2 linked regions of the Homo sapiens genome follow. The protein of the gene in region 1 purifies or fractionates together with the protein of each later gene. This does not show direct contact. Each region holds a gene or a part of one and is shown in the gene's direction. Other genes may lie near its edges. The genes, in order: NEK1 and ALS2.

The links.
Region 2: the proteins of NEK1 (region 1) and ALS2 purify together in Homo sapiens (affinity purification with mass spectrometry; 3 studies listed by BioGRID and IntAct, with this or other methods). This does not show direct contact.

Annotation. Positions count from the first base shown.
Region 1 is NC_000004.12:169,596,506-169,612,566, reverse strand, and holds part of NEK1 (serine/threonine-protein kinase Nek1), read left to right. Parts: 5' UTR 1-345; exon of another isoform or gene 346-423; 5' UTR 424-547; intron 548-9,888; 5' UTR 9,889-9,936; coding exon 9,937-10,053; intron 10,054-10,462; coding exon 10,463-10,559; intron 10,560-13,369; coding exon 13,370-13,467; intron 13,468-16,061. UniProt on the Homo sapiens protein: Phosphorylates serines and threonines, but also appears to possess tyrosine kinase activity. Involved in DNA damage checkpoint control and for proper DNA damage repair.
Region 2 is NC_000002.12:201,716,451-201,732,511, reverse strand, and holds part of ALS2 (alsin), read left to right. Parts: intron 1-3,328; coding exon 3,329-3,460; intron 3,461-3,871; coding exon 3,872-4,000; intron 4,001-4,736; coding exon 4,737-4,807; intron 4,808-5,233; coding exon 5,234-5,300; intron 5,301-5,645; coding exon 5,646-5,848; intron 5,849-5,962; coding exon 5,963-6,028; intron 6,029-7,057; coding exon 7,058-7,156; intron 7,157-8,052; coding exon 8,053-8,217; intron 8,218-9,070; coding exon 9,071-9,182; intron 9,183-9,391; coding exon 9,392-9,469; intron 9,470-12,383; coding exon of another isoform or gene 12,384-12,476; exon of another isoform or gene 12,477-12,526; intron 12,527-14,301; coding exon 14,302-14,435; intron 14,436-16,061. UniProt on the Homo sapiens protein: May act as a GTPase regulator. Controls survival and growth of spinal motoneurons.

The DNA of each region.
Region 1 (16,061 bases):
TTGGGACCCTAGGTTGCGGAGTCCTTACCCTACCCTGGCCTCTCGAGCAGTTGTCCCCATAACTCGGAATCTAGAGCCGCTGTTGCGAGGCAGGAGCACGTGGCAGTCAAGTAGCTTCCCAGTCCCGAACGCCGCCCGTCCCCACCCCGCCGTGGCCACTAGCAACGACCTCTGTGAAGTTGGAGAGGCGGTAACGGAGGCACTCCCCCTGCTGCACCCCGCCGTTTCTACGGGGCTCAGAAACCAGTTTGTTTGTTTCGTCGGGGTAGTGTCGACCTGTCTTACGGGCGTCGCCCGAGACAGGACGGAGTCAAACCCGTGGTATCAACTGAAGACGAGTGTCAGGTGTGGAGAGTCTCAGTGCCCCCTTTCAGTCTGGACTGTGAGCTGCTGCTGGTTAGACAGTCTTGGTTTCTCTTTCAGGATGTCATTTTCAAAATGCGGGATGGTACCTCTGCTTTATTAAGCCCCGTAGGAAGACTGCCACACCTAGACTGATGCTTATTAGTCATCACCGTTATTCCTACTAACGTCCTGTGTCACTGAGGTGAGTTCCACTTGGGGGAAGGAATGACATGCAAAATGGTAAAAATCATCCTGGAAATGAGATGTGCGTAGAACTGCTTATATTGAGATTACACAGATACCTTAAGTGTTTGCAGGGAAAATACCTTAATCTCATTTAAATGTTAATTCTCTAAGACACTCTGTATTAACAAAGCGATTCTTGGACATTACGGTATTTTTAAAAACTAGAGCGGTAATGGGATTAAAATAATAGGAATCTTAGTATGGATAAGCAAGCATTTGCATTGCTTATGTTGTGTCCAATCTTAAATTACTGATAAATTTTAATTAGGAAGCGAATATGAGTAGTAGTTAGCTGGTTACCCTGTAATCTTAGATTTCTGTTTCCATGATTTGACACAGTTTCCATATGTAAGGCATTAATTGTTGTACTACTTTAAGAGTTTATCATAACTTTTTTTGCAGGCCTATTTTTTGTTCTTTAAGATCTGCTTTAGGAAGCAGAAATATTTTTTATTGCCTTGGTATGTTTCATTAGAAATGTTTATGAAGGATTAAAAGTGGCATCCAATCTAAGTTAATGACCTTTTTTTATGATGCAGCAGTATTGTAGAGCTGATGGAGGGGAGCCAAATTTGGAGAGAAGTAACTCCTTGTTTCTAGTTTACATTTGTCTGGTTTTAGAGGTTCTACAGATCTGTTTCACTTAAAATATCCATTGTTCTAGGTGAAATGTAAGGAGCCTATTTTGTGGGAAAACAGGTTTTTTTCACGTTAAAAGTCACTGTCAGGAATTTAATAAAGGTCGTCGGACTTGACCACAGAAGTTCTTTTGAGGTCGTGTGAATAGTACATTGACATTGTATTCCAAGTAAATTTTGCCCTGTCTAATCTCCTGCCTTCTAGTCTAAGTCATGAACATGACACCTTTTCACGAATGTACATTCTTTATTTACCTGTTGGTAGTTTCTACTACAAAATCTGTTGAATATTGTCTGAATAGACTTACAGAGAAGAAAAAATATTTTGAAAAAAGTCTAATAGAAATTCCATTTTTGCTTTCTGCTTTTTCGAATAAAGGAAGATAAAGAACTTTTTTCCTGAGAAGATAAATGGATCCCCTCCCACTATTCAAGATGGTATTTATTGCTTAGGCAGAACTGTATGTATGGATTGTAGCTGCATACAGCGCCAAAAGACTTCTTGAAACCTGTTGCCATGCCTTTACCATGTTTCCCTTCAAGACAGCCTGTCTATAGAATATCTGAAACACCTGATGAGAGCTTAATGCTTAACCTAAGTATGTGTTCCAGATTGATCGAAGTTGAGCTTTTCCATTCATATACTCTAAAATTGTTTATATGTGGCTCACAAAATTTTATTATGTCCAAAATTGCTTATTTGTGGCTTTAAAGAAATTCTTAGTGGCTGGGTGCTGTGGCTCTTACCTGTAATCCCAGCAGTTTGGGAGGCCACGGTGGGTGGATCACTTGAGGTCAGGAGGTTGAGACAAGCCTGGCTGACCTGGCGAACCCATATCTACCAAAAATACAAAAAATTAGACGGGCGTGGTGGTGCGTGCCTGTAATCCCAGCTACTTGGAAGGCTAACACAGGATAATTGCTTGAACCCGGGAGGCAGAGGTTGCAGTGAGCCGAGATACTGCCACTGCACTGTAGCCTGGGCGACTGAGTGAGGCTTGTCTCAAAGAAAAAAGAAAAAAAGAAAGAAATTCTGGGTCAGACGCTGTGGCTCACACCTGTATTCCCAGCATTTTGGGAAGCCGAGGCAAGTGGATCATTTGAGGTCAGGAGTTCGAGACCAGCCTGGCCAGTATGGCGAAACCCCGTCTCTACTAAAAATACAAAAATTAGCTGGGTATGGTGTCACACTCCTGTAATCCCAGCTACTTGGGAGGCTGAGGCAGGGGAATCACTTGAACCTCGGAGGCCGAAATGGCACCATTGCATTCCAGCCTAGGCAACAGAGCAAGACTCTGTCTCAGAAAAAAAAAAAAAAAAAGAAATTCTTAGTAAAATGTGAGGAAAGCTGTCTTATTTGACTAGAGGCTGAGGTACTTTTTTCTGGAGCATAGTTCATATACTTGAAAAGAAGCATGATGCCATAAGAAAACTTTGAATGTCAAAAGTGAGGAGTTTGGAGATGGGGAATTGTTGAAGGATTTTAATTGGAGAAATTGATTTAGCCAGTATTCTTACTATTTCTATCAGATATTATTGTTTTAATATTTATTGTTTTGAATAGATAATACATTTGTATGGTTCAAAATTCAGAAAGTACAAAAGATTGAAAAATCTTTTCAACTATTAAATGCCTTCTTTGTAGGCAGTATTACTAGTTTATTGTGTATCTCTCCATAGATATTATTTAATACAAGCCAGGGGTGCATGTGTGTATATATATACATATGTATATTTATACACATATATGAGTAACTGTAAGCATATATACTTATGTATTTCCTTTTACTAAACAAATGATAGCATGCCATATTTATTATTCTGATCCCTAAAAATCTAACAGTGTATTAAGAAATTATATCAGTTTAAAAGTTGCTGTGTTGACTGTATGTGAATGATTACATTTTGCTCTATTAGAAACAGTGCTGCAGAGGATAACTTTGTAGATACTTTGTTTTCCTACATTTGGAAATATTTGTAGGGTAAATTGCTAGAAATTGAATCACTACATCAAAGTTTCTGTCCCCTTATAATTTTGGTAGATGTTGCCAAATTATTTTCCTTAGTGCTTGTACCAATTTATAGTCCCACCATATTGTTTCCTGCTATTCCCCCACAGTACAGTACAATAATCAACTGTGAATTTTGCCATTCTAATTGATGAAACATGCCGTCTCTTGTGCTTTTTTAAAAAAATTGTGGTTAAATATACATAACATAAAACTTACCCCTTGTATTTTAAAATTGTATTTCTTCTTCTTTTTTTTTTTTTTTTTTGAGAAGGAGTCTCGCTCTGTCACCCAGGCTGGAGTGGAGTGGTGTGATCTCAGCTCACTGCAACCTCTGCCTCCCAGGTTCAAGCGATTCTCCTGTCTCAGCCTCCCGAGTAGCTGGGATTACAGGCCTGCACCACCACACCCAGCTAATTTTTTGTATTCTTAGTAGAGACAGTGGTCTTACCATGTTGGTCAGCCTGACATCAAACTCCTGACCTCAAGTGATCCGCCTGCCTCGGCCTCCCAAAGTGCTGGGATTACAAGTGTGAGCCACCATGCCCGGCCAAAATTGTATATCGTTTTACAGGAGATTGGGTATCGTGGCACATTTTAACATAATTTGTATTCATTCTCAGTGTTAACGTTTAACTTCATATCCTTTGTCCACTTTTCTTTTGGATTGTTGTGTTTTTTGGTCTTATAAATATGTACGAGTTTTTTATTTGTTAGAAAAATGAGATCGTTGTAATAGCTAAAATATTGGTCTAGTCATATTAATCCCTCAAGGTTTTTTGATTTTGTGTTGTGCTTCAGCTAACCACTCTAAGACAGAAGTCATTCTCCCATGTTTTATTTTATTACTATTATGCTTTTATTTCTTACATTTCAGTATTTTAGCATCTAGAATTTAGGTTGGTGTAAAATGAGGGAATAAATTAACTTTTTTTCCCCACATGGCTACCCAGTTGTCTCACTGCTGGCTTTGAACTTTTTATTTCAAAATTCATCTTTTTTCCTACTGATTTGAAATGTCACTATGATTATTAACCAAGTTTTAAAAGTTTTTTGATTTCTGGACTTCCTGTGATTTGCCTATTTCATAATTATTGTAGCTTTGTAATGTGTTTTGATATTAAGCCAAACAAATTTTCCTTCATTGCTCTTCTTTTTCAATATTTCTCTGGCTGTTCTTCTTCTTCTTTGTGTGTGTGTGTGTGTGTGTGTATGTGTGTGTGTGTCTGAACTTTAAAATCAGCCTGTCTAATCACCCCCAGCCCCAAAGCTTATGTTTTTATTAGGACAGCATTAACTGTAGAGATTAGGAATGAAAATCTTTATGATATTAAGTCTTCCTATACATTTCTTTCTCCACCCCCACCCCCATCCCGGTGTGTGTTGTTGTTTTTTAATATTTTTCTCTCAGTTTTTTTGTTGAATATTTTCTATTGGTTCATTTTATAGGCTAGTAATCCTGCCTTCTGCTGTGTCCTGTCTGCCGTAAATCCATGAATGAGTTCTTAATTTCAGATATTTTATATTGTAGTTTTAGAATGTCCACTTTTTAGAAATAAATTTTGAGGCCAGGCGCGGTGGCTCACACCTGTCATCCCAGCACTTTGGGAGGCTGAGGCGGGCGGATCACAAGGTCAGGAGATCGAGACCATCCTGGCTAACACGGTGAAACCCCATCTCTACTAAATATACAAAAAAATTAGCCGGGCGTGGTGGCAGGCGCCTGTAGTCCCAGCTACTTGGGAGGCTGAGGCAGAAGAATGGCGTGAACCTGGGAGGTGGAGCTTGCAGTGAGCCAAGACTGCGCCACTGCACTCCAGCCTGGGCAACAGTGCGAGACTCTGTCTCAAAAAAAAATTAAAAATTAAAAAAAAATTTTAATTCTTTGTTGAAATTCTCCATCTTTTAAAAAATCTGTTTTATCCATCTTTTTATCTTGTTTTCTTAGACATATTAATTAATCATGGTTACTTTCAAGTCCTCTATTAGTAACTTCATGTTTGAGTCATTTGTGAGTCTATATCTGTTTTTGTTTAATGTGCATCATTATTTTTTGATGGGATACTAGACATTGTGAATGAAAAGTCTTAGAGACTCTGAAACATGTATCTTGTAAAAATTGTTAGTTTTGTTTTGGCAGTCTGATGAAGTATCAGTGAATAACTTTGATTTTATCCATGGTTGCTTTTAGGCTTTGTTAGGATGAGACTGTTTCAGTCCTCCTCCATGTATGCACAGTTTAGGAACAGAATAACAGGAGCAGAACTTACTGTAGATTTTTGGACTCCTTCTATTATTTTTCCTCTTCAGGATTTTGGTAGCCCTGAACTCTGACCGCTTTCTCTCCTCAGCAAGACTGCTGCTTTATACTTGAGCTCCATTGTACTGTAGCACAGTTTGGAAACTCTCTTCAGGGAAAAGGCTGGGATGAATGTAGAACCCACTAGTATGTTTCCACCTTTCGGTGATTATAGCCCCTCAATGCATTGCTGTTTCTTTATATATTTTGTTCAGGTTTTAAGTTGTTTTGGAAGGTGAGGTGATCTGATACTAAGAACACCATCATGGTTGAAAGAGAGTCTCACGATTTATTATGTAGACTTTCACTTAATCTCCTAGATCATAGATGGGATTTCCATTCTTAGTTGTGCCTGGTGTACCCAATCTAGAGATATCTGTGGTCTTCTTTCAAGATGGGAGAGGAGTACTTATCTGACTGGGAGAGGTGGAGGAGGCAAACTAAGTGTCTGACACTTCTTACACAAGCTCTTCACCAATCCTGTTTGAGTCCTAATATTATCCTCACTCTTAGATGCCCCAGTACTTCCAATTATTGAGCTAGTTTGTGGTGGGAATTGACTTGTTTCTGACTTATTTCCCACTGCTGGCTTAAGGTACAGCTTTTCTCTATTCTCCTAAGTCAGTTGCTGCATGTTCTTTTGTGTTTGCCAGCTTCTAGAACTGTATTGCTGTTGCCTTCTCTTCTGTTTTGCCTTTTTGGTAATCCCTTTAAAGTCATGTTCCTCAGGTTTGGACAAGTAGTAGAGGTAAATATGTACGGGTCAATCTAGTATGCTTAACTGTAGATTACAGTTTATTTATTTTTACTTTTTAAATAATTAGGCTAAAGAAATTAGTATGACTTCTTTTAATTTTTTGATGGAATGGCTTTCCCCATCACTCTTACTCTTTGTGGCTAAGAGTACAATTCTAAACAGTGTTGACATTATATATTTTCTGACTTTTTAATTTTCTTCTCCTTGAGTCATAGACTAGTCGACTTGGCAAGGTCTATAAAATGGCATTAGGTTTAAATCTTTCGTGTTTCTAGATAAAGAAACTGAAGTCCACAAAAGGCAGATGGTTAGCGTTTGATTATGTAGCTAGTCTTGTCTCTTGATTCTGAATTCATTGCTTTATTAGGTGACATAACTCTTTGGAAAGCTCAAATATCAAAAAAGTCTCTGATTTTTTCCTTGTTGCTTATCTTCAGGATCAGCTATGTATTATAGAGATTGAATTGATATAATTATTAGAGACCTTAAGAACACTATAGAGTGAGTAAAGTTGGTATTGTGATTTTCATTTGATGTTGGAAACTGAATGGTAGAAAAGGCAAACATTAATTTGAGTTTATTACAATACTGAAGTAAACAGGATTCGTATGTTCCTTCAGTTATAAGTTATGATTTTGTATGTGGAAGCCTATAGTACAATTTGTTATTGTTTTCTATTTCATTTGGTATGAAAAATTTTATGGAATTATAATTCAGTTGAGAAGTCTCACAACTAGGAAGTAGCTCAGTTAAATATATTGTAAGATGCTGAAAGTAATCTATTTTTTCATGTTTTCCCTTTTACTTCCTTTATTGTACACTGACATTACAAAAAAGGAGAGTTTGTCTGTTTTCCTGAAAGTCATCTACCACAAGTCTTTTGTTGTTCAGAAAAGTGTCTGCATTTGACATATTTGATGGCAATTAGAGTCATCTTTCTTTACTAACAGGATCAGTAGGTCTGCTTTATAGAGTTAGAACCACAATGTTCAGTAATGTTGTTGGCAGTAGAATGCAACACTGGGGACTTTTGGAGCTTCTGTCTTATTAGTGTGGTCCCTAGAAAGGAATTGGCAACTTAATTTTAAGGAATGGCCAAATTGACTAATTTTGTTTCCCTCTCTTGGCAGAAAGTCGCAGAATAATGATGATTGTGAAGTAATCTCATTATATGGCTATTATTTAATTTAATTTTTGAAATTTAGATTACTAAGATGAGTTTATCTTGATTTTTTTTTGTAAGTAGCATAGTAATGTAATATATTAAACATTCATGTTCTGGAAAAATCATTAAATTGTGGCTGGTGCCCAGATAGCCATTATATTGTGCCAGTTAACACAACTTGGGCTTGAAAATATATTTGGAACAACTTTTCTTCTTTAACTCACTGATGCTAAAATGCTATAATAATGGTTTATTTCTTGTTTCTCTTAAAGTTGCTAAAGGCAATCTTGTTTTCTAAGGTAGAGAAAGGCTCTTTCTCACAAAATTTCATGAGTCATACTTATCTCATCAGTGCTACCACAGGCTGAGTTCTGGCCTGTGGTCTGGTCTTGTAGGCACAGCATATGATGTTTGTCATTTAAGGAGATTGGATCATTTTTAGAGGCAAAATAAAGTTAAAAACAAATTTGGCACTGATGGATGAGATAAGAACATGGATTTTTTAATTTACAATGAGAAATATGGTAAACTGCCACAGAAATTTAAAAAGAGTTTCACGACAAACTTATTTTCTCCTAGAAAGGAATCACACATTGGAAGCCTGCTATGAATGGAAATAAAAAAGAGCAAGCTAGGTGAATTAAATGTTTATTAGTTTCAGATTAGCATAGTAAATTCATGTATGTCTACAATAAGGGTGATATTGCCAATAGGTTGTACACATTATTGCTCTTATGACTCTTTCTCACACTTTTTTCAGCTTTCACTAGCTAGCTTATTGTATTCTGGCTTCTCCTGAAACTACCACTCTTTTGAAATTACTATTCCTAAAGATACTAATGACCTTAATCAATTGTTTTGGTATGGTAAGGGTTTAAGTGTGATACTAAAAGTAGAAATATAAAGAAAAGATTAATACATTTGTTTATATCAAAATAATCTTTTATACTTAAAGGCAACTAGGATATAAGGGAAAATAATTTATGACAGATAAGGACTTCATTACATAAGGAGTTTTTACAAATTAAAGACCAACTCAGTATAAAATGATTAAAGAACATGGATGAATAGTTCAAAAGAGAAAAAATAGAAATGTTCAATAAATGTGGCCGCTCATGGTGGCTCACACCTCTAATCTCAGCACTTTGGGAGGCCAAGGCGGGCAGATCACCTGAGGTCAGGAGTTCAAGACCAGCCAACATGGCGAAACCCCGTCTCTACTAAAAATACAAAAATTAGCTGTGTGTGGTGGCACACACCTGTAATCCTAGCTACTTGGGAGGCTGAGGCAGGGGAATCGCTGGAACCTGGAAGGTGGAGATTGCAGTGAGCCGAGATCGTGTGACTGCACTCCATCCTGGGCTTCAGAGTGAGACTGTCTTAAAAAAAAAAAAAAAAAAATGTTCAATAAATGTGGAAGAATTTTTCAAATTCACTGGTAAGCAAAAGAAATCAAAATAAAAACGAAACACCATTTTCCCCATTAGACGTATGGAGTAACAACAATAACAAATAGTGACACAGTGTTCATATGTGCCAAGTACTGTTTTCAGTACATTCTTACATTAACTAATTCTTCCAACACTTCTGTAAATATGTACTATGGTTATTCACATTTTACATGTGACCAAACTGAGCACATAGAGATAAGTAACTTGCCTAAGTTTACATAACAAATAAGTGATAAAGCTAAGATTTAAACTTTTTAGTGTTCTTTAACTACTACCCTTTATTGCTTCTCAAAGATTTTAATAAATAACAACCAGTGTTTTGTTGTTATAAATGACATTACAGTAAACATCTCCCTAAATACAAGAAATAATAATAACCAGTGTTAATGAGGGTACCTAGTAGCAGGCACTACTGGCTAAATACGTATTAGTAGACAGTTCTGTTAAGACACTTAATATGTTTGAAAGCCATACTGTAACATGGGCATATTCTTTGAATTCAGAATTTATCCTAAGGAAATCCTTACAATAAGCACATTAAAATATGTGTACAAAAACTATCCAAAATTGTTCTATACTAGCAAACATTTTAAACGAATGTTGAATAAGAGGGGATTAGTTAAATAACTTCAAGAAATAGTGTATTATTAGGTTTTCATTCTTTTTGGAGAAAATAAAGTAATGCTACTAATTAATTCATGTAAGTTTGCCTTTCTCTCCATACATTAAGTATATGCAGTATTTGGCTTTCCAAAGCATTCTTATAAAATTGAAATATCACATTTTTTTCTCTTTTTTGGATGTAATTAGGTTGTACTAGTAAAGTATATAAAGTGTAACTTTTAGTGAATATATTAAATATCCTTTTTTAAAATGTTAGCAAATCACTAAAGAATTAGAATTTGAATTAAACATTAAAATTGTTATGAAGTTATAATGTTTTATCTCATGTTATAAATGCTTTATCTTTTTTGTTAGTTTTTTAAATGTCTAGCATATCTGTAAAGATGCCTTAGAAAAAGAATCATGGAGAAGTATGTTAGACTACAGAAGATTGGAGAAGGTTCATTTGGAAAAGCCATTCTTGTTAAATCTACAGAAGATGGCAGACAGTATGTTATCAAGGAAATTAACATCTCAAGAGTAAGTATATTTTTAGTTTGGTTTCATGAGTAATGGTTTAGTTACAATAGAGCTCATTGTTAGAGATTTTCTTTAAAAAAAAAAAAAAGTAATCGATAACCTAAAGCAAAAGACTCCTTTATTCCCGCTAATATCAGAATAGCCTATATATTCTTTCAGATTTTTTCTATGATATGTGCTTATGTTTATGTGTTTAGAAAAATATACTTGCTGTTCTGTAACCTAATCTAGTTTGGACATCTTAAAATGTTTCTACTTACAGATTCAACTCATTCTTTTTAACTTCTTGCTATATTTTGTTGATTGAACTGTATTAATACTATTATGTTTTAACCACTCACCTATTGATGGACTTTTAGGTTGTTTATTAATGGTTTCATTTACTATTTTCTTTTTCCTCCCATTTAAGATGTCCAGTAAAGAAAGAGAAGAATCAAGGAGAGAAGTTGCAGTATTGGCAAACATGAAGCATCCAAATATTGTCCAGTATAGAGAATCATTTGAAGGTCAGATAAATTATGCGAGAGAGTTAAAAAATCCTAAGACATTAATAAATCTTTTTGTGAATGCATTCTTAGGAAAAAGATACCATTTTTGCTTAAAAACATACGCATATGAATATCAGCTTGATTCAAGGACAATACTGATATCATGCCTGCATTTTTTTTTTTTTTTAAATTGAGACAGTCTCGCTCAGTGGCCCAGGCTGGAGTGCAGGGGCATGATCTCGGCTTACTCCAACCTCTGCCTCCCAGGTTCAAGTGATTCTTATGCCTCAGCCTCCCAACTGTGCCTGTATAATTTAATACTGGCTGTTATTAGTGATTGCTTTAAAAGAAGCAATGCAGTAAGTGCAAGAATTTGGACAGAGCAAGAACAGTAATTTACATATTTTTTAACTGAACTTCCTGTAAGTGCTGCCACCACTACCACTGAGAAAATGTTCTGATCTTTAGAAAGTATCCTCACTCAGTATGCTCCTCTGTACCTCACTATTATAATAGTGAGGTATGTTGAAAGTTTTCTCAGGTTCTTAAAGTATTATAGCTATAATGCTGTTTTGGAACTATATGCATTATATTTAATAATGCAGGTATTAAGATAAGGCAAAGCTTCTCTAAAGGCAGGTCAAAGTGGTTTATTGAAGTCCTACCCAAATATTCTCATTATTATAAATTTCTGTAACTTAATTTCTGTAAACTAAAAACCAGGTAATCTAGATTGAAAGTAGAAGATAATTGAAATGACTCAGGGACATATCACATACCAGTTTCAGAGTCTGAATTAGAGCTAAAGTTACTACATTCCCAGATGAACTCTGTGTCTACTATAAGTCTCTTCTACTTTTATAAAAATGTGATTCAATTAATACATTATGTCACAAGGTACTGTATTTTTTATGCTGGCAGTGAAATGAAGATTTATATTTCATGTGAAAGAGTACAAAATTAACCAACTCTTCCTTTTCAGGACCTTGAATTTTCCTTTATCTTTCTCCTGGCATCTATCCTTTAGTTTCTTTTTTTGTTGTTGTTAACAAAATTTTAATATTTCAAGTTAAAAGGTTTTGAGCAAATATTCCAGCAGATGTTTTGGATTTATATTGACTGCTTCACATAGAAACATCTGTGTGATTCAAAAGGGGTAGCGTATTTTAAAAATAAGGCTTTATTATTTCTCTTAGTTTTAGAAGAATACATGCTAGCATCAAACATAAATGATAGCATAGTATATGTAATTTTTTGCTTTTTGTTATGCTACATACATTATAACATCTATATACATATAAATAGTGAATTATAGTTTTCAGGAGTTTTTTTCACATTATAATTTCTCACATGTATATTTGGATGATCTTTCCAGGTCAATCATAAAAAGTCATACAGATTCTTAATTAGCTTTATCATATAGATTCTTATCCCAGTGGCACATTACAAACAGTAGATCAAAAGAAGATATGTGCACCACGAGTGACAAGAATGTCACCACAAAGTATAAGAAATAAATACTCCTGGAGGCTGGATGCGGTGGCTCACAATTGTAATTTCAGCAACTTCGGGAGGCTGAGGTGGGAGGATCTCTTGAGCCCAGGAATTTGAGATCAGCCTGGGAAACATAGGGTGTTTGTAGACCCCATCTCTACAAAAATTTAAAAAATTAGCCAGGTGTGGTGGTGTGTGCCTGCGGTTCCACCTACTCTGGAAGCTAAGGTGGGAGGTTTGCTTGAGCTCGGGAGGTCGAGGCTACAGTGAGCCATCATCGTGCCATTGCACTCTAACCTGGACCCTGTCTCAAAAGAAAAAAAAAATACTGCTGGAAATAAGGCCATAGCACAGTCAGTGAAAGAAGTGAGAACTAGGAAAACTGTTCTTTGAGTTGTGATAGTCTCAGTACTATGTAGTGATTCAGAAAATGTTAAAAGTGATATTGGCCACTCTTCCTTACTTAAGAAGTAAGGGATGGAAAGAATCATCAAAGTGTTCTTCTAAGCTGGACACAGTAGCATGGGCTTGTAGTCCTAGCTATTGGGGAGGCTGAGGCGAGAGGTTCCCTTGAGCCCAGGAGCTCAAGGTCAGCATGAGCAAAATATTGAGACACTTTTTCTTAAAAGAAAAAAAAAAGCCTAAATAAAAAAAAGAAGTATTCTTGTAGTCCTTTCTATCCATAGGAAGAAGCACAGAAGTACCTTTCTTTGTGGACCGAGACATAAAGGTGGATGGGGCAGTGCCCATCTTCATGTTTGTTCACAAATCATATGCAATTTTTTAAAAAGTGCATAAAATTAAGGAAAGCTCAAAGAGGGTGGAAACAGTGTATCCTATACACTGTTGAATCCTCAGAGTTTATCACAACACTTATTATTTTATTTATTTAATAAGTAAGTGATTAAAGTGGATAAAACAAAGCAGAGAATTAATGGCCAGTCAGAAAACTAAGATAACCCATCTCTGATGTGATATATTGGTGGAAAAACATGATTTTATGTGTGACATTTAAGGAATTGTATTTATTGAATGAAATCAAGTATGTCTGCATTTTGTTTATATTTCAGAGATGTTTAGGTCAATGCAAACAGCACTATTCAATAAAATAGTGTATTTTTAATAGAAATCATTAATGATGGAGTTTTCTGTTAACCTAAGTCATTATACAATCTTTGTGACCGGTATACCTTGACTTTGTGCCCTAATTCTTTTGAGTATGGTCCTGTTTTTTGTTCAGCAGCTGCTTTTTAGTAAGCTTTTAAGTACTTTTAATTTAGCCATGCTTTTGATGTACGTTTTTAAAAGTGGACTGTAATGTTTATATTTTGTAGAAAATGGCTCTCTCTACATAGTAATGGATTACTGTGAGGGAGGGGATCTGTTTAAGCGAATAAATGCTCAGAAAGGCGTTTTGTTTCAAGAGGATCAGGTAAGTTTGCATTTAGGAAATTGACTCTTACTCTATTATTGAGAAGTAGTTCAAAATTTGTTTATGTGTGTATTTGTTTTTAACTACAAATGCTAATCAAAATTACTAGGGAAGTTTAGTATATCAATAGTTTACTCATATTTACCTCTAATTAGCTGCCACCTTTGTTCAGTTGCCCATCTCATTTATAGTCTGTAATGATATATTGTTATCTCTGTGATGTATGTTATATATATCATGCGTCTATGTATATGCCTTAATTATTCATTATAACTGACTAGTCTATATTCTGTCAATCTGGCTTACTGCTGCCAGACTATATATTCCTAAAATGTGGCTTTGCCAGGTAACTCCAGCTCTAGAAGCCTTGCACCGACAACTGCATTAAATCTAATCTCTCTTTTGATTTCCAGGATCTCTAAAATATGGCCGTTCCCTACCTAAGCAGCCTTATTTTTTTCTATTCCCTAATCTGTACCTCTTTTCATTTGCTTTAACAGATATTTATTGAGCATGTGCTTTGTGTTAGGCACCGGGCCACATGTTTGTACATCTCATTCTCCTTCCTGTGTATTTACTCTGATTATTTCATTTATTTTGGTAAGCCTTTTCCCCAAACTTTGTTATTAATACTCTACCTTTTTTTTTTAAGCTCAGTTCAAGTCCCAGCTTCTTTAAATTTTCCATAACTACTTTAATCTGTGATATTTTCCTTCTCTACATTCCTATCACATTTCTCATTATCACCAGTTCTTAATTTTAATTGCCCGCTTTTACATAGGGGAGTAGAGGGAGCACTGTGCTAGGAGTGTTGTATTTGTTATCTCTTCTAATTTGGATAAGTTTTTTCAATTTATAAGGAATCCAAGAGAGGTTAAGTACTTGCCCCAAATCACATAGTCAGTGTTTGAACCCACCTCTAACTCTAAAGTTTATAACATTTTCTTTTCACACACTTGAATTATAAAAGTATTGAAGTATACAGAAATGGAAAGTCTTCTTTCTCCACCCTTTTGTTCCTGAGATTACCACTGCTTTTAGTTTGGTGTATTCTTCCAGACTTTCTTTTCCATACTTAACACATGTACATATATACATTAAGACACACACATTCAGAAATGGGATATTATTATTATTTATTTATTTTTATTTTTATTATTTTTTTTGAGACGGAGTCTCACTCTGTCACCCAGGCTCGAGTGGAGTGGCACAATCTCGACTCACTGCAACCTCCGCCTTCCGGGTTCACGCCATTCTCCTGCCTCAGCCTCCCGAGTAGCTGGGACTACAGGCGCCTGCCACCACGCCTGGCTAATTTTTTGTATTTTTAGGAGAGATGGGGTTTCACCGTGTTAGCCAGGGTGGTCTCCATCTCCTGACCTCATGATCTGCCCGCCTCAGTCTCCCAAAGTGCTGGGATTACAGGCGTGAGCCACCGCGCCTGGCTGGGATATTATTATTTTTAAGATAGGCTCTCGCTCTGTCACCCCAGCTGGAGTGCAGTGGCACCATCACAGCTCATGGCTGCCTTGCACTCCTGAACACAAGCAATTTTCCCACCTCACTCTCTGGAGTAGCTGCTGCTACAGAAACGTGCCACTAGGCCCAGCTAATTTTTTAAAAATTTATTTTATTATTATTTTTTTTTTGTAGAGATGAGGTCTTGCTATATTGCCCAGGCTGTTCTCAAACTCCTGGCTTCAAGCAATCTTCCTACCTTGGCCTCTCAAAGTGCTGGGATTATAGGCACGAGCCACTGTGCCATTTCTGGCCAGGCACAGACATGGGTTTGAGTTCTTGCTCTACTTATCAAGTTGGTAATTGTTCTGTTAACAAGTTCTGAGATTATTTTCTCATTTGTTAATAGGGAGATACCTACTATACATGTGGTGAAGGTCAAATAGTAATGTATGTTAGTATATACAATGCTATTTTTATTAGAACATTGTCAGATATATTTCATTGTTTGTGCTTATTTTCATTCATTTATCCCTATCGAACTTTAAAATGTTTGCTATTAAATGATATTCCCTTATAAAGCACATTGATATTTTATAGATTTGATTCTACTCTTTGATAAGTACTCTTAGTACATAATGTGGTGTGTGTGTGTATGTGTGTGTGTATCTTGTCTTCCTGGAAATTATTATGGAGATTTGTATAGTTCATCCATCAGTGAAGTTATTTATCATAAATGATAAAAATTTGGCAAGCCATTCTTTTAAGTTAATAGCATTTTTTCTACCCTTCTGAATAGCAAGTTCTGTTAGCACAAATAAGGATGCTATTTATTTTAGCCTATTTAAAATAGGAAGAGGTCATTTAAACTACTTTCTGGGCTTTGAAACAGGAAAACTTAGAGCTCCATTAAACTGTAGCTTAGCATCAGTTTGAGATGATTTTGTCCCTTTCTAGAATGTAAGTGGGGAACAGGAAGACCTGTGAAACAGATGATTCTCCAGCTACTGAAGCCATTCTCTTCAGTGATACTTCCTGTTTGCATCTTTACTGGACAAAAATCTAGTCAGGTTAAGAAGCAACCTGAGTCTATGACTTTATTAATAGAAAATAATGAGATGAACTAAGTACGTTCC
Region 2 (16,061 bases), on another chromosome or scaffold:
ACTGCAACCTCCACCTCCCAGGTTCAAGTGATTCTCATGCCTCAGCCTCCTGAGTAGCTGAGATTACAGGTGTGTACCACAACACCGGCTACTTTTTTTTTTTTTTTTTTTTGTATTTTTAGTAGAGATGGGATATCACCATGTTGGCCAGGCTGGCCTCGAACTCCTGACCTCAAGTGATTGGCCTGCCTTGGCCTCCGAAAGTGCTAGGATTACAGGCATGAGCCACCACGCTGGCCCCTTGTAGGTTTAGAATCCTCTTAATCTTTGGGTCTGTCTCTTGATCTAAACAGATTTCACCCCTCAGAGTGACCCAGGAACTGATTGATGTAGGCTTTCTACATTTGAGCCTGCTGTGAAACCAGACTAAAGAAAAGACCTACAAGGTCTTTAAACTGATCTAGCTTTAGCTGTGAAGGTTTGACCTCTCAAATATCCCAATGAGATACAGCTTTCACCTCAATATGGCCTCAATTAATAAAAAAATTTTCCACCAGATCAGCTTAGAATTGTTGAGAGTCAGAGTTCAGTTTCCCTGGATGTAGCTTTCATATGCTTTATATTTCCTTCCTGAAACACTCCCACTCCCATCCTCATTCTGGGACAAAAGTCATTTTATCATGAAAATAAAGCCCTCTTTGACTATATTGGTTCTCTTTCACCTATCCATCTCTGAAGGATTATTTACTCTGTGTTTTGCTAACACTTTCTTTCTCTATTATTCACTTCTCATGTTATATCAATGGCCCTTATCCTTATCACAGGGGTTCAAAATCAACTGTGGAAGCTTTTTCAAAACAAAACCTGCCTGTATTCCATCACTATACGTTATAATTTAGTAAGTCTAAGGCACAGCCTTGACGTCATATATGTGTGTACACATATATGTATTTTTTTAAATGTCTCCATATAAAAATAATGATGATACTTTTATTGAATGAATTCTATATGCCAGGCACTGTTCTAAGCAAGTTATATGTATTCATATATACATATAACTTTAATCCCCACATCAACTCGGTGAAGTAGGTATTATTATTATTACCGATTTCATCATCAGCCTTTTACAGATAAGAGAATTGAGACACAGCTGAGAATTGGCAGAGCTAGAATTAATATCCAGGCTCTGGTTCCAGAATCTGTCCTCTTAACCTACTTTCCTAGATTGTCTTTTATGATATATAACCTATTAACAAAACCACTGCATTATTCTGGTACATTTTTTATCTTGTCTAATTATGGTACAAAGATCATACCTTATTTTTTTTTCCCTAGCACTCTAGCAGAATGTTTTATATGTGGTAGATACTCATTAAATGTTTCTTAAATGAATGGAAAAAATGAAAATGAGTGACTCTCAGAATTGTAGCAAGTAAAGTAATTACTCATAAACGTGAGAGATCATCCTTTGATCTTACCTTCTGCTCCCTCGCTACATGGTGTAGCGGTTACACCCATCCCAGTAGTTGTTTCTCAAAACTTGGTTTGCAGACCCCTGGGGCTTCCAAAGACTATTTCAAGGGGTTCACAAGGTCAAAACTATTTTCATGACAATACTAAGATATTTGCCTTTTCCACTGTATTGTCATTTACACTGATGGTGCAAAAGTTAAGGTGGGTAAAACTGCTGGCTCCTTGGTAGGAATCAAGGCAGTGGCACCAGACTATACTAGTAGTCACTGCGTTCTTCACTGCCATGCAGTTGCAGTTAAAATACAATTTCGCTTAAGAATGTCCTGTTATGTGTGGTGACATGCAAAGTACATGTAAAGCAGCTCTGCTGCATGCTGAAGTGTGGCAGTTTTTCAAGAAAAAGCATGACTGTGATAGTTGAGTTGAGAGCTCCTCTTGAAATAAATGGGTTGCTTTTTTTTTTTTTAAACTTGAAAGGACAATTGACAGATAAACTGATTTTTCAGATTTGGATATTGGCAGATATTTTCTCAGAAATGAGTAAATGAACCTGTCATTTCAAAGAGAACAACTGATAGTATTTGTTGCCAATAATAAAATCTCAACTTTTAAGCGAAAATTAGAATGTTAGAGATGGATCTGCCACTGTGAGTCTGACAGTTTCCTGATACTTAGGACTTTATCTCATGAGATTGGTAGTTCTATTATCCTGTGATTTTTGATGTTATAGAAAAAAAGGTATCAACATTTGGAAAATCTGCATAATTCAGTCAACCGATATTTTCCATATGTCCAATCCACAATCATAGATGGTACAAAGCCATAGATGGTAAAAGACCCATTCAAAGTGCATGATAGACCCCTGGATTTTAACATCACAGGGTACAAAAAGCTCATTGCTGTGGTTTCAGATTCTACATTGCAGCTCCCTTTAAGAATCTACCACATAGCAAGTTTTAATATAGTATCAAAGGAGAATATCCACATTTATTTGAAATGGCTATTAAAATGCTTCCCTCTATTCCAGATATATACCTTTATAAGGCCACATTTTCTTCATAGGTTTTAACCAAACAACATATAACAGATTAAATGCAAAAGCTGATATAAAAGTCCAGCTGTCATTTTTAAAGCCAGATAATAAAGAGATTTGAAAAAATGTGGACCATTGCCACTTTTCTCACAAAAAAAGTTGTTTTTTTTTTTTTTTTTTTTTTTTGAGACGGAGTCTCGCTCTGTTGCCCAGACTGGAGTGCAGTGGCGCATCTCGGCTCACTGCAAGCTCCGCCTCCCGGGTTCACGCCATTCTCCTGCCTCATCCTCCCGAGTAGCTGGGTCTACAGGCGCCCGCCACCACACCCGGCTAATTTTTGTATTTTTTTAGTGAATACGGGGTTTTACCGTGTTAGCCAGGATGGTCTTGATCTCCTGACCTCGTGATCCGCCTGCCTCGGCCTCCCAAAGTGCTGGGATTACAGGTGTGAGCCACCGCGCCCTACCATTAAAAAATTTTTGTAAGTGAATTAATAAAAGCTTCTAACATTTCTTAATTTTATGTTCTAATATGGTAAATATCAATAGATACAGTCCACATAAGAAAAATAAAGGGATCCCGAGACCAAAATATTTGAGAACTCCTGCTCTATCCTGGGGTCTCTGCTGCTCTATTCACTAACTGCCAGGTTTTGTCTCTGTCACCTGAGTTATGCCCCTATTTCATATGTACTTTTATGTAGTAGAATTTTTCTGAAACCAATCTCCTTTTCCCAGTCTCCTGCAGTGTGCTACTTATGCTCGTGGGCTGAATTTTCTCCTACATTTAATACTATATGTCTAAGGCAGACTGAGGCTACAGATTCTGCATAATGGTTTTATGTTCTTTTTTTTTTTTTCCTCTTTAATTTTTGCCCTGTAGGCATCTCCAGAATATCAGAAACTGCAGGATTCCAGTTCTTGTTATGAGTGTCTTGCTCTCCATCTCGGCAGGAAAAGGAAGGAAGCAGAATACACACTGGGCTTCTGGAAGACCTTCCCCGGAAAAATGACGGTAAGCCATGCCAGTTGTCATTTGTTACCCTAGCAAACAGCAACCATTTCGATAACAATTGATACAATTTTCTCTGTTCCTCACTTGTTTGTGGTAATAACCTTTTAATGACCCCTTTCCTAAAATGTCTAAGGACCATACTAATGGGTACTCTAAATACCTTCTCTCATTTCTAGAAATCCTCTCTGAAGACTTACTCACCTTCTTTAGTTTGTTTTTGTCTTCTTTTTAATCTCCTTTGAGCTCTAATTTTGTGAAGTGTTTAGATCCCATATAAATTTAGATTTTACACCAAGCTAAGCTACGACCAGCAAATTCCCTTAAATGTGATTTGTGTCTGTTTTATTTTCTCTTTACATGTTAAAATAATTTTGATTGTTTGACTTGTATTATATTTGTCTTTAATTCCAGGATTCCTTGAGGAAGCCAGAGCGTCGACTGCTGTGTGAGAGTAGTAACCGAGCCCTGTCTCTGCAGCATGCTGGGAGGTTTTCCGTGAATTGGTTCATTCTCTTTAATGATGCCCTGGTCCATGCCCAGGTAGGCTGGATTCCTAACCTTAAAAGAATTCCTGAAAGGTGGACCCCTATCCTTATTAACTGTACTATCAGTTTATGTTCAAAACTAGTGTGATTTTACTGAAACTGTTGACTAAAAGAGGCTAGCCATCATTCTCAGCAAACTATAGCAAGGACAAAAAACCAAACACTGCATGTTCTCACTCATAGGTGGGAACTGAACAATGAGAACACTTGGACACAAGAAGGGAAACATCACACACCGGGGCCTGTCGTGGGGTCGGGGGAGGAGGGAGGGATAGCATTAGGAGATACACCTAATGTAAGTGACGAGTTAATGGGTGCAGCATACCAACATGGCACGTGTATACATATGTAACAAACCTGCACATTGTGCAGATGTACCCTAGAACTTAAAGTATAATAATAATTTTTTTTAAAAAAGAGGCTATTTTAGCTACAGCATGGATTTCTGTATGCGTTGGATTTCAGAGAACTTCTTAAGTTTCCAGCTTGAGAATGAGTGTCAGCCATGTGAAGAGGGCCCTGCAGCAGAGATGGCAAGGCCCTTTGGGTTAGCTGTGTTATGGGGACAATGTGGCAGAATTGGTGGCACCTACATGGGCTTAACTATTTCAAGGGGTTCTGCAGCAGAGACTGCAAGGCCCATGTGGGTTAATGACATGAAGGGGATATGGGCAGAGTCCCCGAGGTCTACATGGGCTTTCATAAAAGTGCCTCCGTGTTCTCTGTTTCAGTTCTCCACGCACCATGTTTTCCCTCTGGCCACGCTGTGGGCAGAGCCACTGTCTGAAGAAGCTGGTGGTGTGTAAGTGCGTCCCCCCTCCCCACCCCACCCCGTCCAAGTCTGTTACCCAGGTTGCTTCCTTAAATGTGAAAAAAAGCTCAGGAAGGCTTCGGAGACAGTCTCCTCATTCTGTATAATGAGGCCCACCTCTCAGCACATTAGACAGTAAAGTAGTCTATTGATAATAAAATGGCCTGTTGTGAAGATCATGGCAAGTCACGATTAGGTGATGAAAGGGCATCTTCATTGCACACATCCCCATCGTTCAGCACAGAGCAGAGAATTCTTTGTTCTTTCCACCGTGGTGGCGCCCAAAACCAAGCAAGCATTTACATTAATTGATTTCTGTTCCTCTTGAAATAAAGAGGTTGCTTTTCATATTTGAGGATCGATACTGTAATGACAGGTTGTTAAATGTCCTGGTATTTATCCTTGTGAACGTTTTAGGAATGGCTTAAAGATAACTACACCTGAGGAGCAGTTCACTCTCATTTCATCTACACCCCAGGAAAAGGTTAGTCTATTATGGTATTTTCCTTCAATCTTCGCCCTGGCTCTTTCTGCCTCTTGTGTAATAAAGAAGAAATATAAATTGTTCTTGCTTGACTAATGATGCACAGTTCTGTCTGATAAATCTTCATTAACCCAAAACTGTAGGTTCTTCATTGTTTTTTTTTTTAATGTGACTTAATTTTAAACATATAGCAGAGAAATACAAGAGCCAGTCAATATTACTCTATTAATAAGAAAAGCATTAGGACACAAATAATTTATTCACACCAAAGAAAACTAGCAGGATTTAAAGCAATGCTTGATGAATTGTTGCCTTAAACTTATTGACGTTACTTTTTGCTCCTAGACAAAGTGGCTACGAGCTATAAGCCAAGCCGTAGATCAGGCTTTGAGAGGGATGTCTGATCTCCCCCCTTATGGAAGTGGTAGCAGTGTTCAGAGACAGGAACCACCCATTTCACGCAGTGCCAAATATACTTTCTACAAGGATCCTCGCCTAAAGGATGCCACCTATGATGGACGCTGGCTTTCAGGGAAGCCTCATGGCAGGTGAAAATGTTGAAGATTTATGCCTGGGGTGAGGATGATCATCACATGATAGAAAAAGTATTAATTATCTGAAATATTAGTTGACATGCATTATTCTTTGCTTATGCATTCCAGAGGGGTTTTGAAGTGGCCTGATGGAAAGATGTATTCTGGCATGTTCAGGAATGGCTTGGAAGATGGGTAAGAAAATTGTGTAAAACATGACAGTAAATTCAAGTTCGGTAAGGTCGTAAATTATGTTATTTTGTATGCAGAGCTGCTTTTCAAACAAGTAGTAGATTTTTGTTGTTATTTTTTAGAAATGCACATGTATGAGCATGAAGAGAGCCAGGAGTGAGGGGTACAGCCTCTGATTTACCTAGACTGGGTCATTTTCCCTGATAGCCGTGTGACCTCAAATTACACAGCCTTCCATCTGTTAAAATGGGGCTATGTTTTCTATTCATTTCTCAGTTGTGAAGACTGAGATCTTTGGTAATGTTAATGGTGGGACTATTGAGATGGTAGTCCTCCTTTACACAAAGGACATAGAAAAATTTTCCTTTCAGTCGTTTTAAGTCATCTTTAATTTCTGTGATCTGTTAAAGGAGAAATTTTCCAAGTGCTATATTATCTCAATGATGCTCTAATGACTTTTTAAAAATAAGTTTATCATGTTTTCTAACACTGTAAATGTATTTACATGATTAGTTTATGGCAGTATTTTGTATAATGTTAAGGAAGTAATTTAGTATATAAAAAATGTTGGGTAGGTGATTTTGTGTGTCTGTGTGATCATGTAAATTCTTGTGATGTGTTAAAATCTCTTTTTAATAGATTGTTAGAATGAGAAGAGACTTTAGATCATCTAATTTACCCACTGAGTTGCCCCTCTTATTATCCAAATAAAGGAGCTAGATACCTGGGCTTACCGCATGGTGGTGCAGGTAATTAGTGACAGAGATAGGTGAAGGACACAGGTCTTCTGTTTTTCACTGGAGTTGGATTAAAACACCATATCTTAGTGTAGTGGGGCTGATGTCCCACTCCTCTTGCCAAACAGCTTAGGTTATAGATTCACCTTAAACCAAGATGCTGTTTTAACCCTTTACTCCTACAGGTGAATGTTTTCTCTGTCTTCCTTGTTAAAATGTTTACCAGGATATACATACAAAAGGTGAATATGTCATAAATGCATCTTCTTTTGTTATTTTTTCTTTTTCATGGCAGGTATGGAGAATACAGAATCCCAAACAAGGCAATGAACAAAGAAGACCATTATGTGGGCCATTGGAAAGAAGGAAAAATGTGCGGTCAAGGAGTCTACAGGTAACATTGGAAAGGCTGTTGGACTGGTGTTTGTTTTTCATATAACCATGTAAACCTGAATGTTTGCATAGCCAAAATTTCCAAGTTTTAAGTTTTGTTTAGTCTTATAGATAAAATTTAGAGGAGTAAATAAAATTGAAACTCTGTGTGATCATCTTTTAAAGGTTAACCCCTCATCTATCGCAGGATTAAAATACTGGATTATTAAATTTAGTTCTTATCTAAATTTTTTTTTTTTTTTTTGAGATGAAGTCTCGCTCTGTCACCCAGGCTGGAGTGCAGTGGCGCAATCTTGGCTCACTGCAAGCTCTGCCTCCCAGGTTCATGCCATTCTCCTGCTTCAGCCTCCCGAGTAGGTGGGACTCCAGGCGCCCGCCACCACACCCGGCTAATTTTTTGTATTTTTAGTAGAGACAGGGTTTCACCGCGTTAGCCAGGATGGTCTCGATCTCCTGACCTCGTGATCCACCCGCCTCGGCCTCCCAAAGTGCTGGGATTACAGGCATGAGCCACCGCACCCAGCCCTAAATTTTATATACCTTATAAACCATAATTTTATGAAAAAATGGTCTTATCTATAATAAGACATATAGGATTCTAATGGACAAAACTTTTATTCTTCCCTCTTAAAAATAACTCATTATTTCATTTTCCCATAAGAGAATAAAAACACATTGTTTTTCATGTTAATGCAAAATACCACACATGGTGTCTTTAACTTTTTAACTTTAATCATTCGAAAATGAGGTTTTTTTAATTGGTGAAAAATAATCATATAAACAAATAATTATAGCTACCAGTGAGACTGAGTATGGTTTTGGATTTTCTAAACTTTGTAAAAATGAGCATCAGAATTCAATGTGCATGTGATAATTATCCATTCTTTCCAACCACAGCTATGCTTCTGGTGAAGTATTTGAGGGCTGTTTTCAAGATAATATGCGTCATGGTCATGGTCTTCTACGAAGTGGGAAATTGACGTCCTCTTCTCCTAGTATGTTCATTGGCCAGTGGGTAATGGATAAGAAAGCAGGATATGGTGTCTTTGATGATATCACTAGGTACAGTATTCTCCTTCTATTCCCACAGTTTAAGCCAATGATTAAGCACCATCATTATTTAACAAGCAGTTTATACTTATTTTGTCTTTTTCATGGAGATTAGTAAGATTTCTTTGAGTTTGAGTAGGTGAAAAATGAACCTTCTTTTATGACAAACCCTTTTATTTACTTTTTTATTTTTTGAGACAGGGTTTCACTCTGTCACCCAGGCTGGAGTGGTGCGATCTCAGCTCACTGCAATCTCTGCCTCCTGGGTTCAAGGGATCCTCCTACCTCAGTCTACCAAGTAGCTGGGACCACAGGCACACACCACCACGCCCAGTTAATTTTTTGTATTTTTGGTAGAGATGGGGTTTTGCCATATTGTCCAGGCTGGTCTCGAACTCCTGGCCTCAAGTGATCCACCTGCCTTTGCCTCCCAAAGTGCTGGGATTATAGGCATGAGCCACCGAATCCAGCCTCTTTCTTTTTAAGTTAGCAAACTTTTGTGTAAGAAAAACCTGTGCATAGGTTTTATTCTGCTTATTACATTTTAAATGAAATTATTTAGAGTTGAATTCTAGACCTTCTTTTTAAAAATTATGTATTTTAAAGTTACCAAGTAACTACCTGGGATATATACAGATCTGTGTCAGACCACAACATTAAATTCCTCAGAGAGGATTACTGAGTGAGATGTCTTTTGCTATCACTTTGTCCCATATTTGAGGAGACAAAGTTAACTATTTTAACTAGAAAAATGGAAGCAATACCAACCTAGGGTTGATGCCTGGGATCTCCCATGTGATAATTGTCTTTTCCCTACTTTATCCTTATCTTCAGTGCTTTTTCTTTTCTTTTTATTTCTGTGCAGGGGGGAAAAGTATATGGGAATGTGGCAAGATGATGTGTGTCAAGGGAATGGTGTGGTGGTTACCCAGTTTGGATTATACTACGAGGGCAACTTTCACCTTAATAAAATGATGGTGAGTGGAATATTTGCATGTAGTTATTACTAACTTTTTAAAGCTCCTTTGTCCTTAACTTTTTAAATCATCTTTTGATTAGTTTCCACCTTCTTAGTACTATTTTCCTTCTTTTAAGATTCCATAAGGCTTTGGGGATATGACTGCGTGCACTCTTAAGTTACTCTGTATTTTATGTGTTGTAATTTTTCTCTTGTTTCTTCTTGTAGGGAAATGGGGTTTTGCTTTCCGAAGATGATACTATCTATGAAGGAGAATTTTCAGATGACTGGACTCTTAGTGGAAAGGTTGGAAACTAGCTTTCTTTTTTTTTCTCCCTAATAAATTCTTTTACTAATTTTTTTTTACTTTAAAAATAGCTGATTTACATGCCATAAAATTCACCCCTTTCAAGTGCACGTTTCAGTGATTTTTGGTCAACATGGCTGTACAAACCACCACCACAATCCAGTTTCAGAACATTTCCATCGCCCAAGAAAATCCCTTCTGCTCATTCAGTGACTTCCATTTCCACCTAAAGTCCCAGCCAACCACTAATCACCCTTAATCACTCTATAGATTTGCCTTTTTTGGGCCTTTTGTATAAATGGAATCATACATGCAATCTCCTCTATGTGGCTTCTTACACTTAGTATAATGTTTTTGTTTTTTCCATATTGTGGCATGTATAGTATTTGTTCCTTTTTATGGCTGAATAGTGTTCCAAAACTACATTTTGTTTATCCTTTTACCAGTTGATGGACATTGGGTTATTTCCAACTTTAGACTATTGTAAATAATGCTGCTATAAACTTTTGAATGCAGTTTCTTGTGTAGACATATGTTTTCATTTTCATTTCTCAAGTAGATGCCTGGAGTGTAATTGCTAAGTTGTATGGTAAATTGATGTTTAACATATTAAGAAACTGTCGAACTTTTTTCCAAAGTGTCTGTACCATTTTACATTCCCATCAGCAATGTCTGAGGATACTAATTTCTCCATATCAAAAAATATTTCTTATTTTCTGTCTTTTTTCTTATAGCCATTCCAATGGGTATGAAGTGGTATCTCCTGGTTTTAATTTGCATTCCCTAGTGACTAATGATGTAGAACATGCTTATTAGTGATTCATATATCTTCTTTGATGAAATGTCTATTCAGATCTTGGCCTATTTCTAAAATTTTGTTTGTACTCTTGTTGAATTGTATGGGTTCTTTCTGTATTCTGGATACATGTCCTTTATCAGATATGATTTGTAAATATTTTCTTGCAGTCTGACTTGTCTTTTATTTTCTTAATAGTGTCTTTTGAAATAGAAAAGTTTTTCATTTTAATAAACTCTATAAAAAATTTTATGAATTATGCTTTTGATGTTATGTCTAAGAAGTCTTTGCCTGTTGGCTCAAACCTGTAATTCCAGCACTTTGGGAGGCCAAGGCAGGTAGATCACGAGGTCAGGAGATCAAGATCATCCTGGCAAACATGGTGAAACCCCATCTCTACTAAAAATACAAAAAATTAGCCAGGCGTGGTGGCGGGCACCTGTAGTCCCAGCTACTCAGGAGGCTGAGGCAGGAGAATGGCGTGAACCTGGGAGGCGGAGTTTGCAGTGAGCCGAAATCGTGGCACTGTGCTCCAGCCTGGGTGACAGAGCGAGACTCCGTCTAAAAAAAAAATGAAAGTTTTATAGTTTTGCCTTTTATATTTAGGTCTGTGATTCATTTTAAGATAACTTTTGTATATGGGCTGAGTTATGTGTCCAAACTAATCTTTTTGCATATGGCTATCCAAATTTCCCAACACCTTTTCCCATTGAATCTTGGCACCTTTGTTGACCAGAAAATGTGTTTATTTCTGGTCTCTCAGTTACATTTCACTGATAAACATGTCTCTCCTTGTGTTAATACCACACCATCTAGATTACTGTTGATTCCTAGTAAGTTGTGAAATCAGGAATATAAGTCCTCCAAATTTGTTCTTTTTCAAAATTGTTCTGGCCAATCTAGATTCTTTGACTTTTCATATAAATTTTAGGACTGGCTTATCAAGATTCTGCAATAAACCTTGCTAAGATTTTGATAGAGATTGCATTGAATCTATAGATTAATTTGGGGAGAATTGCCATCTTAATATTGACTCTTCAACCCATGAACATAGAACACCTCACAGTTTATTTACATCTTTAATTTCTCTTGGCAATATTTTCCAGGTTTCAGTGTACACATCTTGCATTTCTTTGGTTAAATTTATTTCTAAGTATTTTATTGATGCTATTGTAAAGCGTTGTTTTCTTAATTTCATTGCTATAATATAAAAATGCAGTTGATTTTGTATTTTGTTCTTGTTTCCTGAAATCTTGCTGAATTCGTTTATTAGTTTTAGTGGTTTTTTTTGTGTGTGGATTTCTTAGGATTTCTTACATACAGAATCATATCACCTACAAGTAAAGACATTTTTGCTTCTTTCTTTACAATATGGAAGGCTTTTATTTCTTTTTCTTGTCCAGTTGCACTGGCTAGAGTCTCCTGTGGAATGTTGAATAGAAAAATGTTAAGATTGGACATCTTTACATTGTTTTCTATTTTAGAGAAAAGCTTTGTGTGTGTGTGTTTGTGTGTGTGTGTGTGTGTGTGTTGAGATAGTGTCTCACTCTGTCACCCAGGCTGGAGTGCAGTGGCGTGTTCTCAGCTCCCTGCAGCCTCAACCTCCTGGGCTCAAGCGATCCTCCCTCCTCAGCCCCCCAAGTAACTGGGACTATAGGCACATGCCACCATGCCTGGCTAATTTTTTTTTTTTTTTTTTTTTTTTTGTAGAGACAGAGTTTCGCTATGTTGCCCAAGCTGGTCTCAAACTCCTGAGCTCAAGCAATCCACCCACCTCGGCCTCCCAAAGTGCTAGGATTACAGGCATGAGCCACCATGCTTGGCTGAAAAGCATTTTTTGTTAAAGTGCTTTTCCATTATCTGTTGAGATGATCATGTGGTTTTTATCATTTATTCTACTAATATGGTGTATTATATTGGTTGCTTGTCTGATGTTAAACCAACCTTGCTTTCCTGGGATGAATTGTACTTGGTCATGGTGTATAATTTTTTTTATATGTTGGTGTTGCTGGATTTAATGCGAATATTTTGTTGAGGATTTTTGCATTCATATTTATGAGAGGTAATGGTCTGTAGTTTTCTTTTATTGTGATGTCTTTGTCTGTCTTTGATATCAGGATAATTCTGGCCTCATAGAACAAGTTGGGAAGTGTTCCCTCCTCCCCTATTTTCTGAAAGTTTGCGAAGCTTTGGTATTATTTCTTCTTTGAATGTTTGGGAGAATTCACCAATGAAGTCTTCTGGGCCTAAGCATTACTTTGTGAGAAAATTTTTAATTTCTAACTCAGTTTCTTTACTTGCCTTAGGTCTATTTAGATTTTCTATTTCTTATTGAGTCAGTTTTGGTACTTTTTGTCTTCCTAGGAGTTTTTCTATTTCTCTATGTTATCTACTTTGTTGGCATAAAGCTGTTCTCTTAGTATTCCATTCTGTCTTCGTATGTTTGTGATGCTTTAACAAAATGTCATAGACTGAGAAATTTATTTCTTCACAATTTTGCAAGCTGGGAAGTCGAAGATCAAGGCTACAGCATTCCCTGTTTGGTGAAGGCCTTCTTGGCTGAGGCCTCACATAGCAAAAGATGGAAGGGCAAAAAGGCCTAAGATAGTTCCCTCTGGCACTTTTATTTTTATTTTTATTTTTATTTTTATTTTTTTCGAGACGGAGTCTTGTCTGTCACCCAGCCTGGAGTGCAGTGGCATGATGTCAGCTCACTGCAACCTCCACCTCCTGGGTTCAAGCGATTCTCCTGCCTCAGCCTCCTGAGTAGATGGGATTACAGGCACGTGCCACCGTGCCCAGCTAATTTTTGTATTTTTAGTAGAGACGGGGCTTCACCATGTTGGTCAGGCTGGTCTCGAACTCCTGACCTCATGATCTGCCCACCTTGGCCTCCCAAAGGGCTGGTACTACAGGCGTGAGCCACAGCGCCCAACCCTCTGGCCCTTTTCTAAGGCACTGCACCATTCATGAGGACACTGTCCCTAATCACTTCCCAAAAGACCCCACCTCTTACTACCATCACAGTGGGGTTTAAGTTTCAGCACAGATTTTAGAGGAGACACACTTTCCAAACAATAGCACCTTCTAACTTTTTTAATTCTATAGGCTGGTAGTAATAACCTGTTTCACTCTTGATTTTAGAAACTTATGTTTTCTCTTTTTTTTCTTGATTAATCTAGTTAAATGTCAATTTTATATATCTTTTCAAAGAAGCAACTTCTAGTTTCATTGATTTTTCTTTATTTTTTGTTTTCTATCTCATTTACTGATTTTTGCACTAATCTTTATCATTTCCCTCCTCTTTCCTGCTTTGGGTTTAGTTTGTTAGTTTGTTCCTCCTTTTGTAATTTTATTAGGTGGAATTTTACATTACTGATTCGAGAACTTCCTGAAAAGATAGGTGTTAACAGCTAAAAGTTTCCCTCTAAGCACTGCTTGTAATTTACATCATCCCCTAAATTTTGATATATTGTATGGTCATTTTATACAGTTCAAAATATTTTTGACTTTTCCCTGTGTGTGTGTTTTTTTCTTTTACCCATGGATTATTTTCATATACTCTTTTAGACATGCATGTGCCCATATTTTGTTTGAGTTTTAAAGAGTTGGAGACTGGTAAAGAGCAAGTTAAAAAGGAAAACAACCATTTAGTGCTTTTTTTCTCTTGATTTTAAAAATTGAGGGCTGGGCGTGGTAGCTCATGCCTGTAATCCCAGCACTTTGGGAGGCCAAGGTGGGTGGATCACTTGAGGTCAGGAGTTCAAGACCAGCCTGGCCAACATGGTGAAACCCCGTCTCTACTGAAAACACAAAAAATTAGCTGGGCGTGGTGGCGGGCGCCTGTGATCCCAGCTACTTGGGAGGCTGAGGCAGGAGGATCACTTTAACCCAGGAAGCGGAGGTTGCAGTGAGCCAAGATCGCATCACTGCACTCCAGCCTGGGCAACAGAGTGAGACTCTGTCTCTAAATAAATAAATGAATATTGAATATATTTCCTCTAACCCCACATTTTATTCTCTGACTTTACCTAGGGAACACTGACTATGCCAAATGGAGACTACATTGAAGGTTATTTTAGTGGAGAATGGGGATCTGGGATAAAAATCACTGGAACCTACTTCAAACCTAGTCTATATGAGAGTGATAAAGACAGACCTAAAGTTTTGTGAGTAACTAGTGTTAATTCTGGATTAATTATTGAATGTTTGGAGTTGTCTTGCTTTTATCAAAGCTGGTTAATATTTTAAAAGCAAAGTCAAGTTCTTAAAGTCTTCTTTTTTATTTTATTTTATTTTTATTTTTTGAGACAGGGTGTCACTCTGTCACCAGGCTGGAGTGCAGTGGCATGATCATGGCTCACTGCAGCCTTGACCTCCTGGGTTCACGTGATCCTCCCGCATCAGCTTCCCTAGTAGCTGGGACTACAGGCACCCGCTACCATGCCCGGCTAATTTTTCTAATTTTTGTAGAGACTGGGTCTTGCTATTGCTCAGGCTGGTCTTGAACCTGAGCTTAAGCGATCCTCCTGCCTCAGCCTCCCAAAGTGCTGGGATTACAGGTATGAGCCGCTGCACCTGGCCAAAGTCTTTTTTTTTTTTTTTTCTTAAACAAGATGTAACCTCCTTGAATTGTCAACTGACACTGCTTTAGATGACTAAATCTGTAGTCTTGTCTGTAGTCTTGGTTTAGATTATAAGCCTTAAAGCATGGATGTTTAAAAGGAAAGTTCCATGTGTGAGAGAGTGTTCTTTTTTTTTTTTTTTGGAGGTGGGAGGGGAGATGGAGTCTTGGTCTGTCGTCCAGGCTGGAGTGTGGTGGCGTGATCTTGGCTCACTGCAGTGTCTGTCTCCCGGGTTCAAGCGATTCTCCTGCCTCAGGCTTCCAAGTAGCTGAGACTGTAGGTGCACACAACCATGCCAGGCTAATTTTTTGTATTTTTAGTAGAGACAGGGTTTCACCATGTTGGCCAGGCTGGTCTCGAACTCCTGACCTCAAGTGATCCACCCACTTTGGCCTCTCAAAGTGCTGGGATTACAGGTGTGAGCCACCGCGCCCAGCCTGAAAGAGCATTCTTAAATGGAATCTGTACACAACTTGATTTTGAAAAGTAAAGAACATACACACACACACACACCCCAAGTGGAATAGTAAAATCTGCATATATGAGGAAAAAAAGGCAAAATCTAAGTATATTATACCCATTGCATTTTTGGCTTTATTTTCTGTTCTCCCACCATCTCTCCCTAGATGTGGCACAATCACAGAAGTGGACAGTTTTTGGCATATGTCTGTTTTTCTTTATTGATTGCAGCTTTAATTTTATTATTATATTTGGTAGCACCTCAGGTTTTTGTTCCCAAGGATATGTTTTCTGTACCATGTTTATTCTTAGAGTCTTTTAGAACCCAGTATGTAATGCATTTTAAATTCTCATTATAAGATGTGCAAGGTTCAGAAAGTCCTTGTTCTAACAGGAATCAATTTTTATTTTTATTTTTTTTTAATTTTTAAATTTTTTTTTTTTTTTGAGATGGAGTCTCACTTTGTCACCCAGGCTGGACTGCAGTGGCGTGATCTCAGCTCACTGCAACCTGCACCTCCCAGGTTCAAGCGATTCTCCTGCCTCAGCCTCCTGAGTAGCTGGGATTACAGGTACGGGCCACCACGCCTGGCTAATTTTTTTTTTTTTTTTTTTTTTTGAGATGGAGCGTCACTCTGTCGCTAGGCTGGAGTGCAGTGGTGTGATCTCAGCTCACTGCAACCTCTGCCTTCTGGGTTCAAGCGATTCTCC